Linked DNA regions of Homo sapiens. The protein of the gene in region 2 interacts with the protein of the main gene of each other region in a pairwise test. Each region holds a gene or a part of one and is shown on either strand. Other genes may lie near its edges. The genes, in order: HGD and PCDHGC3.

What was found.
Region 1: the proteins of PCDHGC3 (region 2) and HGD interact in a two-hybrid assay, tested with the Homo sapiens proteins (one large-scale study listed by BioGRID and IntAct).

What each region holds. Positions count from the first base shown.
Region 1 is NC_000003.12:120,675,740-120,679,553, forward strand, and holds part of HGD (homogentisate 1,2-dioxygenase), read right to left. Parts: intron 2,256-3,814; exon of another isoform or gene 2,165-2,255; intron 125-2,164; coding exon 53-124; intron 1-52. UniProt on the Homo sapiens protein: Catalyzes the conversion of homogentisate to maleylacetoacetate.
Region 2 is NC_000005.10:141,492,829-141,496,642, reverse strand, and holds part of PCDHGC3 (protocadherin gamma-C3 isoform 1 precursor), read right to left. Parts: intron 1,837-3,814; coding exon 1,778-1,836; intron 1-1,777. Other genes in the region: PCDHGC5 (protocadherin gamma-C5 isoform 1 precursor), read right to left, coding at 1,778-1,836; PCDHGC4 (protocadherin gamma-C4 isoform 1 precursor), read right to left, coding at 1,778-1,836; PCDHGA12 (protocadherin gamma-A12 isoform 1 precursor), read right to left, coding at 1,778-1,836; PCDHGA11 (protocadherin gamma-A11 isoform 1 precursor), read right to left, coding at 1,778-1,836; PCDHGB7 (protocadherin gamma-B7 isoform 1 precursor), read right to left, coding at 1,778-1,836; PCDHGA10 (protocadherin gamma-A10 isoform 1 precursor), read right to left, coding at 1,778-1,836; PCDHGB6 (protocadherin gamma-B6 isoform 1 precursor), read right to left, coding at 1,778-1,836; PCDHGA9 (protocadherin gamma-A9 isoform 1 precursor), read right to left, coding at 1,778-1,836; PCDHGB5 (protocadherin gamma-B5 isoform 1 precursor), read right to left, coding at 1,778-1,836; PCDHGA8 (protocadherin gamma-A8 isoform 1 precursor), read right to left, coding at 1,778-1,836; and 11 more. UniProt on the Homo sapiens protein: Potential calcium-dependent cell-adhesion protein. May be involved in the establishment and maintenance of specific neuronal connections in the brain.

The DNA.
Region 1 (3,814 bases), on a different chromosome or scaffold from region 2:
GTCATCCAGGAATAGGATTCAGAGCTCTTCTAAGCACTTTATTTGCTCATACCTGTCCTTCTGGCAGGGAACCTGGGCAGCGAGGATCCTCTGAAGAACACTCATTCCCAAATCCAGAAATGTACTGTAGGTGACAAAGACACAAATGCCACCATTAGCAGGATTTAAAGAGCATTTCAGAAAATTGGCAGTTTACTAAGGTAAGAATTTCTATATGGACCTATGTTTGTGTATGATGTTCCACATATAATATCTTTACTGTGTCTTGACATATGAATCATTTAGGGAAGACAATATGGTTTCTGTGAATTTTAAAGACTTCTAATTAATCAGAAGAGTGCTGGATATTGCATAGACTTCTCCACCCTTAGCTGTACTTAGCTGATTTGTGGGTCTACACTGTAACCTCCCTGAACTTGAGACTCCATTTCCCTTTCAAACTCTGGGAAAAAAAAGAAAAAGCATCTATGAAGAGGTGTGTGGGTCCAACCCTGACAGCAAAACCCTCTCCAAACTAGCCTTGCTGTAGGCAGAAGCCTCTGCTATCTGCCTCATCTATGGAACACATCTATATTTGTGCGAATGCATGAAAATAAAGTTTAAAGATATGGGTGGCCTTCAGGAGACACGCCAGCCCAGCATCTTTTCACAATGACACAATGGAACCTACTCTGATTGCCATCTCTTCACTTTACACCCAGAGGAAAAAAAAAGTTAAAGGGTTTCTCAACCAGGTAAGTCATGGAGAGCCCCTGAAACTTACTCTTGCAACACTCAACACACTTGTGAGTTCTTGTGCACTGTCTGGCTTTTTTGCTAGCCTATAAGCTGCATGAAGGCTGAGACTATGGCAGTCTTGGCTCATAGAAGGTAATCAGTGGAAATTTGTCGATTGATTGAATTTTTCCCTTAAAGCCAATTCTAATGTAAGTGTATGTGTGCTGCTGTAAATAGGGTTAGAACCCTTTTTGCTCTAACTTAAATACCAATTGATTTTAGCCCAGGATAATGAAAATGCAGTCTTGCTCAGCAAGCGAAATGTAACCATCTGAACACAGCTCCTTAAGAGATATAAGAAGGGTGGAAGTGGGTGAAGGGTAGGCCCTCCAGAGTTCTCAGTTGTTGCGGGAAGTCTGGGACTCCAAACGGAGGGATCAGCTGAAGCCATGGCAGAAGTTCGTGGATTGTGAAGATTTCATGGACATTTATTAGTTCCCCAAATTAATACTTTTGTAATTTCTTATGCCTGTCTTTACTGCAATCTCTAAACATAAATTGTAAAGATTTCATGGACACTTATCACTTCCCCAGTCAATATCCTTGTGATTTATGCCTGTCTTTACTTTAATCTCTTAATCCTGTCAGCTGAGGAGGATGTATATTGCCTCAGGACCCTGTAATAATTGCATTAACTGCACAAATTGTACAGCATGTGTGTTTGAGCAACATGAAATGTGGACACCTTGAAAAAAGAACAGGATAACAGCAATTGTTCAGGGAATAAGAGAGATAACCTTAAACTCTGACTGCTGGTGAGCCAGGCAGAACAGAGCCATATTTCTCTTCTTTCAAAAGCAAATGGGAGAAATATCGCTGAATTCTTTTTCTCAGCATGGAACATCCCTGAGAAAGAGAATACGAGCCAGGAGGTATAGGCTTATAAACAGCCCCCCTCCAGGTGCGCCTGTCTCTTATGGTCGAGACTGCAGGGGTGAAATAGACCCCAGTCTCCCACAGCGCTCCCAGGCTTATTAGGAAGAGGAAATTCCCGCCTAATAAATTTTGGTCAGACCAGTTGATCCTAAAAACCCTGTCTCCTGATAAGATGTTATCAATGACAATGGTGCCCGAAACTTCATTAGCAATTTTAATTTCGCCTCGGTCCTGTGGTCCTGTGATCTCACCCTGCCTCCACTTGCCTTGTGATATTCTATTACCTTGTAAAGTACTTGATGTCTGTGACCCACACCTATTTGCACACTGCCTCCCCATTTGAAAATCCCTAATACAAACTTGCTGGTTTTTGTGGCTTGTGGGGCATCACGGAACCTACCGAAATGTGATGCCTCCCCCGGATGCCCGGCTTTAAAATTTCTCTCTTTTGTACTCTGTCCCTTTATTTCTAAAGTTGGCCGACGCTTAGGGAAAATAGAAAAGAACCTACGTGAATATTGGGGCAGGTTCCCTGATACTCAGTGGCGTGGAGATGTAACAAGCCTGGATGTGTGAGTGATGATCAGGCCAACAACAGTCTGTATTTGGAAGAAATATCAGATGTGAATGTTATGACCTAGGAAGCAATGGAAGTGAAAAATTATTCTTTTTGCCTTCAGACTCAATATTTTGTATATTTGAAAATTTGTCAACACAAAAAATACTAAGTTGTATACTGATTTGTTAAAAGCAGCAGCATGCAGTTAGGATGATATCTTTGGGGAAATGGCAGAGACCATCCAACATTCTGATTCTCCACTGCATCCAATTTTCTACTCTCAAAATGAACCCCATGCTCACCATCAACGGGATTGAATTTGAGCTGCTGAGAATTGGTAATAACCCCAAATTATCTTCAATTCTGTGAAATGGAATTTTAGACCAGCCTGTGACTGAAGCCACTGGGCATTACAGTGCCTTCGCTTTGTTCAACTGCCGCATTGTTTCTCTCTGCAAGAGAGGAAGGAAGGCTGGAGTACAGCTGAGCTTTCTGGCAGGCACTGGTGGAGTTACTCATTAACCTTCCCCATTCTTTGTAACTGGTGGCCTTAGAAGAGGGTTCAGGGTTATGTGTTTGGAACACGAGTTAGTATAAATGGTTCTGAAGCACTTGATTCAGACTGTGCTTTAAAAAATAGGAAAGAAAGTAGAAAGAACAGCTGATGGTTTGGAAGGGAGCCACCAAGCACCAAGAGGTGTGAGTTCTGAATCCGTTTCTCAATCTTAGCTGCAGGGCATTGGCTAAAGAGGAAGGTGAAAACTGCTGAGTCACTATCAAATCAATTGGTTTTTCTAATCCCCTGAGAGAAAAAGTACAGAGTTTATTGCAGCTTTAAAATGCCATGCCCCTCACGGCCAAAGGCATCTGAATTAAGGAAGCAGTATTCACAGCTGCTTTCTCCAGACATTGAGCTCAAGGACAGAATCTGAACTCTGCTTTTATCAGCTGCGAAAATCCAAGCATTCATTTCCAGCTGGTTCAGTGCCTATGTAAAAGTATACTGTGTACAAAAATAAGATTAAAAAGCTAACATTAAGCAAGTGTGTTTGTATGTTTTCTACAGTTCGGATTTCTGAATAATTTGATCCGACAGAAAAATATGATTTCATTTCTTTTCGAGAGAATTATATGCATACTTTCTAAATGCAAGAATAAATTCCTGAGCTCCATGTGACTTCAGTACCATCAGCTCTTTGGCAGCTTATGAGTATACAGCTTTTTAATTCTCACCTGGTCCCCAGGATATGGTTTACTTGTCAGAGTAGTTTTATGAGGTGCTTTCTCCTGACTCTGATTCTAGGTAACACCTGATGAGATGAACAGATGGTGCACCTCACTTCCTCTTACTGGGCATGAAGGAAAGAGAGAGAAGTCAGGGTAGAGATGAAACTACTGCTACATTTTTTTTTTCTGTGGAAAAAGAGTCTAATATTTCTAATTAACCTTGATGGGAACATAGAACATAGATTGTAAAGGGAACTTGCACATTATCGCAGTAGGCTGAATAATGGCTAATGGCTCACTCTGAAAGATATGTATGGCTTAACCCCTGAAACCTGTGAGTATTATCTTTTCTAGCCAAACAGACTTTTGCATATA
Region 2 (3,814 bases):
CAAGGGCAGCCCAAGCCTTTTGATCTGCTGCTTTTTAGGGGCCTTCTAAGAAGCGCTTTGCGTTCCTAAAATGGGTGACAGGACTGTGCATGCCCAGAAGCTGGAATCTCTGCCATACACCAAGGGCTCCTGGGTCCTTGTGGCAACAAGGGTTTGGTTGGTTGCAGGATGGGGGAAAGATAACTCTTGGAAGCTCAGCATCTGTAGCAACTTGGCAAATGTGGACAGCAAGTACTCAACCATTGAGGAGGTAGGGTAAGGTGGCCCAAGCTCCTGCTTCTCTCCCTGGGCTCTGAGACTCCTCCAGGCTCCTGACTTCTAACTGGGAGGCCTGGCGCAGAGCCTATCCCACTCTGCTCAGACCAACTGAAGGTCTTTCTGCTGAAGTTTCCCTCCCCTTCAGCCCGCAGGGGGTTCCTGTCTCAGCAGGAATTCATACCAGATTGAAATGAGCAGCTGGGGCTGCTTGGATGGGAGGGTGTCTGGTGGAGAGCTGCGATCAAAGGCTCAGTGTGTGAGGGGCAGGGAAGGAAGAGAGCGGGGTGTTGGTGGGTGGTGGGTGGGGGGTTGTGTGTGCTGGCTTGCCCACAAGCACAAAAAAATGAGAGACAGAGACAGAGGCTCAGAGAAAAAAGACAAGATAAAAGAAAAAGAGAGATAAAGAAAGAGTAACAGAGAAAGAGGCAGAAAAAGACAACAGGCACAGAGACCAGAGACAGAGACAAAGAAAGATATACAGAGACAGAGACAAAGAGAGACAAAGAACAGAGAGGAAAGCAGAAATAGTGAGAGACAGAGAAACATAGAGGCTGGGGATAGAAGAACACAAGGCGCTAGGAAACGGTGAAAGGAGAAACAGAAAAGAGGTCCAGGACAAGGACAGGGAGGCAGAGATAGAGAAGGAGAAAGAGACTAAGGGTCCCGTGTAGTTACTCACTCCACATTTATTGAGCACTTATGCCATGGCAGGCACAGTGGGCGGCACAGATCAATGCAAGTAGACAAATGAAAGGGACTGAGGCTGAGGTGCAGCAATCAAGACGGAAGCTAAGACAGAGATGGAGAAGAGAGGGAGAGGCAGAGATTGCAAAGCGAGATAGAGACTGAGGGAAGGACTGAGAGGTAAGAGAAAGTGGCAAAGACGGAAACTCAAGAAAAAGGGGCAGAGACACGGAGACCCCACAGACAGAGAGCAGGACAAGTAGGGGCAGAGGACAGTGGGAGGAGGGGCCGGAGAAGGGGGCCTGCTCCATGCCCCGCCCAGTCCTTCCTCAGTTCCACCTCCAGCTGTGCTGCCTCCACTCTCCCCAGGCTGCAGTCAGCCTCGGCTCTGGAGGCTCTGGAGGAGGCGCTGAGTGCGGACCGCCTCCTCCGGTCAAATGCTTTTCTGCCTGAGCCCCAGGTCATAATGGAGCCCAGCTCAACTCAGGGGAGGGGGTTAGGCAGTACATGGGCATAGAAAGCCTCGCTTTCACCCAGAGACCAGCTTAAGACCATCCTTTGGTTCCACAGTGCCCTCAGGGGATAGGAAAAGGTGCCGGTCGTGGCGAGGAGGGAAGGGGCAAGCATGTGAATTGAGCTTCCTGAACAGTCAGGGCAGTCGCCTCTTCCTTCCGGGGTCTGTGTGCCAGCCCCCCGCACACCAAGACCTCCCTGGGATCTCAAACTGAGGGAGAAGCCATCTGTAGCAAATGCTGGGCCCTCCCCCATCTCCTCCCACGTCATCCCTGAGAAAATGCCGCAGAGAAGAGGGTGGGCTGGAGAATCAGTCACCTACCCGCTGGTGCCGGGTCTCTGGGCCTGAGAGAAACGCCAGTCCGTGTTGGGCGGGGCTTGCTGTGGAGAAAACAGAGGGAAAGGGGCTGAGTACCCGTGAGAAGTTAGAATGTCACCCGAGCCCCTAGGGATGGGCCGGGAGAGAAGGAGGGGAGTGGGCACAGAGAAGAAAACGGACTAAGAGGGGGCAGGGGTGGACTCATCTCCAAAGACAAAATACACCTCAGGTCTCAGAGGTCTGAGGTACCAGAAACCAAGAGATAAATCACATTTCATCTGACCACAGTGAGCAAGCTGAGACTCCTTTCCTAAAGAAATGGCCCCTTCCTCCCTGCCCCCAGAGTCAGAACTCCTGAGCCAAAATTCAAGGACTGAAGGCATCTTCTGTGGAACTGGGGGAAGAGGTGCAGACAAAGCCCCCTAAAGTGGCAAAGGAGGCTTTTCAATGAGAATTCTACCAGCCCTAGAATGAATTTATTCAACTCCTCAGCTGGGAACAAAGCATCCTCTGCAGCAAGATGGCTGCTGTTCTTGGTAACCCTTTTGGTGCCAGGTTGTGCAGTGACACATTCACAGGGACATCTTCTCTGGGCCCTTGGCTTGCAAGAATCTCTTCCCACAGCTAAATACATTATTAATTTAGGAGTCATGCCAGATTGGGCCTTTGCGGGGCATCCAAGTCCCGGGACACTTCTCACCCCTAGAACTCCGTGCCAGACAATGGTCTGTGACTAAGGAGAAGAGAACAAGGCTGCTCTGTCTGAGACGGAGAAAAATGGAAGGGATGCAGCGGGGAGGGATCCAGCTCCCACAGCCTCCAAGCAGGGCCAACTAAGTCTCCAGGGCTCCCAAGGGGCTGATGTGTAGCCATCTCCCACCTAGCTGAAGGTGTGGGGCTCTGGCCAGCCACTTCATTCCTGAGTCCCTTCTGGTCTTTCCAGGGGGTGTGTTATCCCATCACACACTCTCATGGAGCACTCCTAGAGCCACCTCCTCACTGGTTCTGGGGTGGGCTGGTAATTAATACTCATACTTGCTCCCAGAAGCAGAGAGTGTGAGTATCTCAGATTACTCCAGGGAGAAGGAAGCTCCGGAACTGCCAGTGGCTCACTCAAGGCTCACAGGTGGCAGTGATATGAGCAGAACCCAGAAACCTAGCATTCCAGGTGTATCGGGAGTCACCAGCACCATTCTGGGGCTGCCATGGAGAAGGGCACAGGGATGGCCAGCCCTCAGCCACTGTATTCTTAGACACAGCAGAATCTACATGGAAATGCAGTGATTGTGATAGGAGGAAACGGAGCTGGGGGAACTCAATCTCCAAAAGGATAACTGGCCAAGTTTGCGCTGCGGGGACTGCTCAGAAATGAGGAGCCACAGAAGACTTTCCCCACATGTAAGGTCCTAAAAGGGAAGGAACCCCACCCTTGCCCCATCCCAGCAGAAGCAAAATCCCAGCAGAGGCAACTCCCCTCTCCTGTCCTCAAGCTTTTAAAGTTCCAAGTGCCAAGAAATTAAAAGCACACATTCTGGAGTTAGACAGGGGTTAGAATCTCTCTTACTTGCTCTGTGAACTTGAGCAAGTCACTTGACCTCTGTGAAGCTGTTATAAGAGAGGCATGTTAGTACCTAGCCAACAGCAATGGTGGGAAGAGCAAATGAGATGAGGTTCTCAAAGGAGTTATATAGTAAGTTTCTCTCAATCAGCTATCAAAATCACCTGGGGGTGTTTCAAAATACAGTCCTAGGAGCAGAGTTAGGCATTGATATATTTTGAATAAAAGCTCCTGGAGTTGGAGAAACTTGTGTTTTTTACTATTGTAGTTTCCTCACACATAAGGGCACCCTGGCATCTGGCAGAGCCTATAGCTTTCCATCTGCCAGAGGAGACAGGACTTGTTAGAGTGTCAGATAGTTTGGTCACCTCCAAATCTCTGACCCTAGATCGCTGGGCACATTGTGATCACGACGGCGCCAAAAGCCTGTATCTCTGGGGGTTGAGAGCCAGGGCGCTCGAGGCTTTCACTTCCTGCGGGAG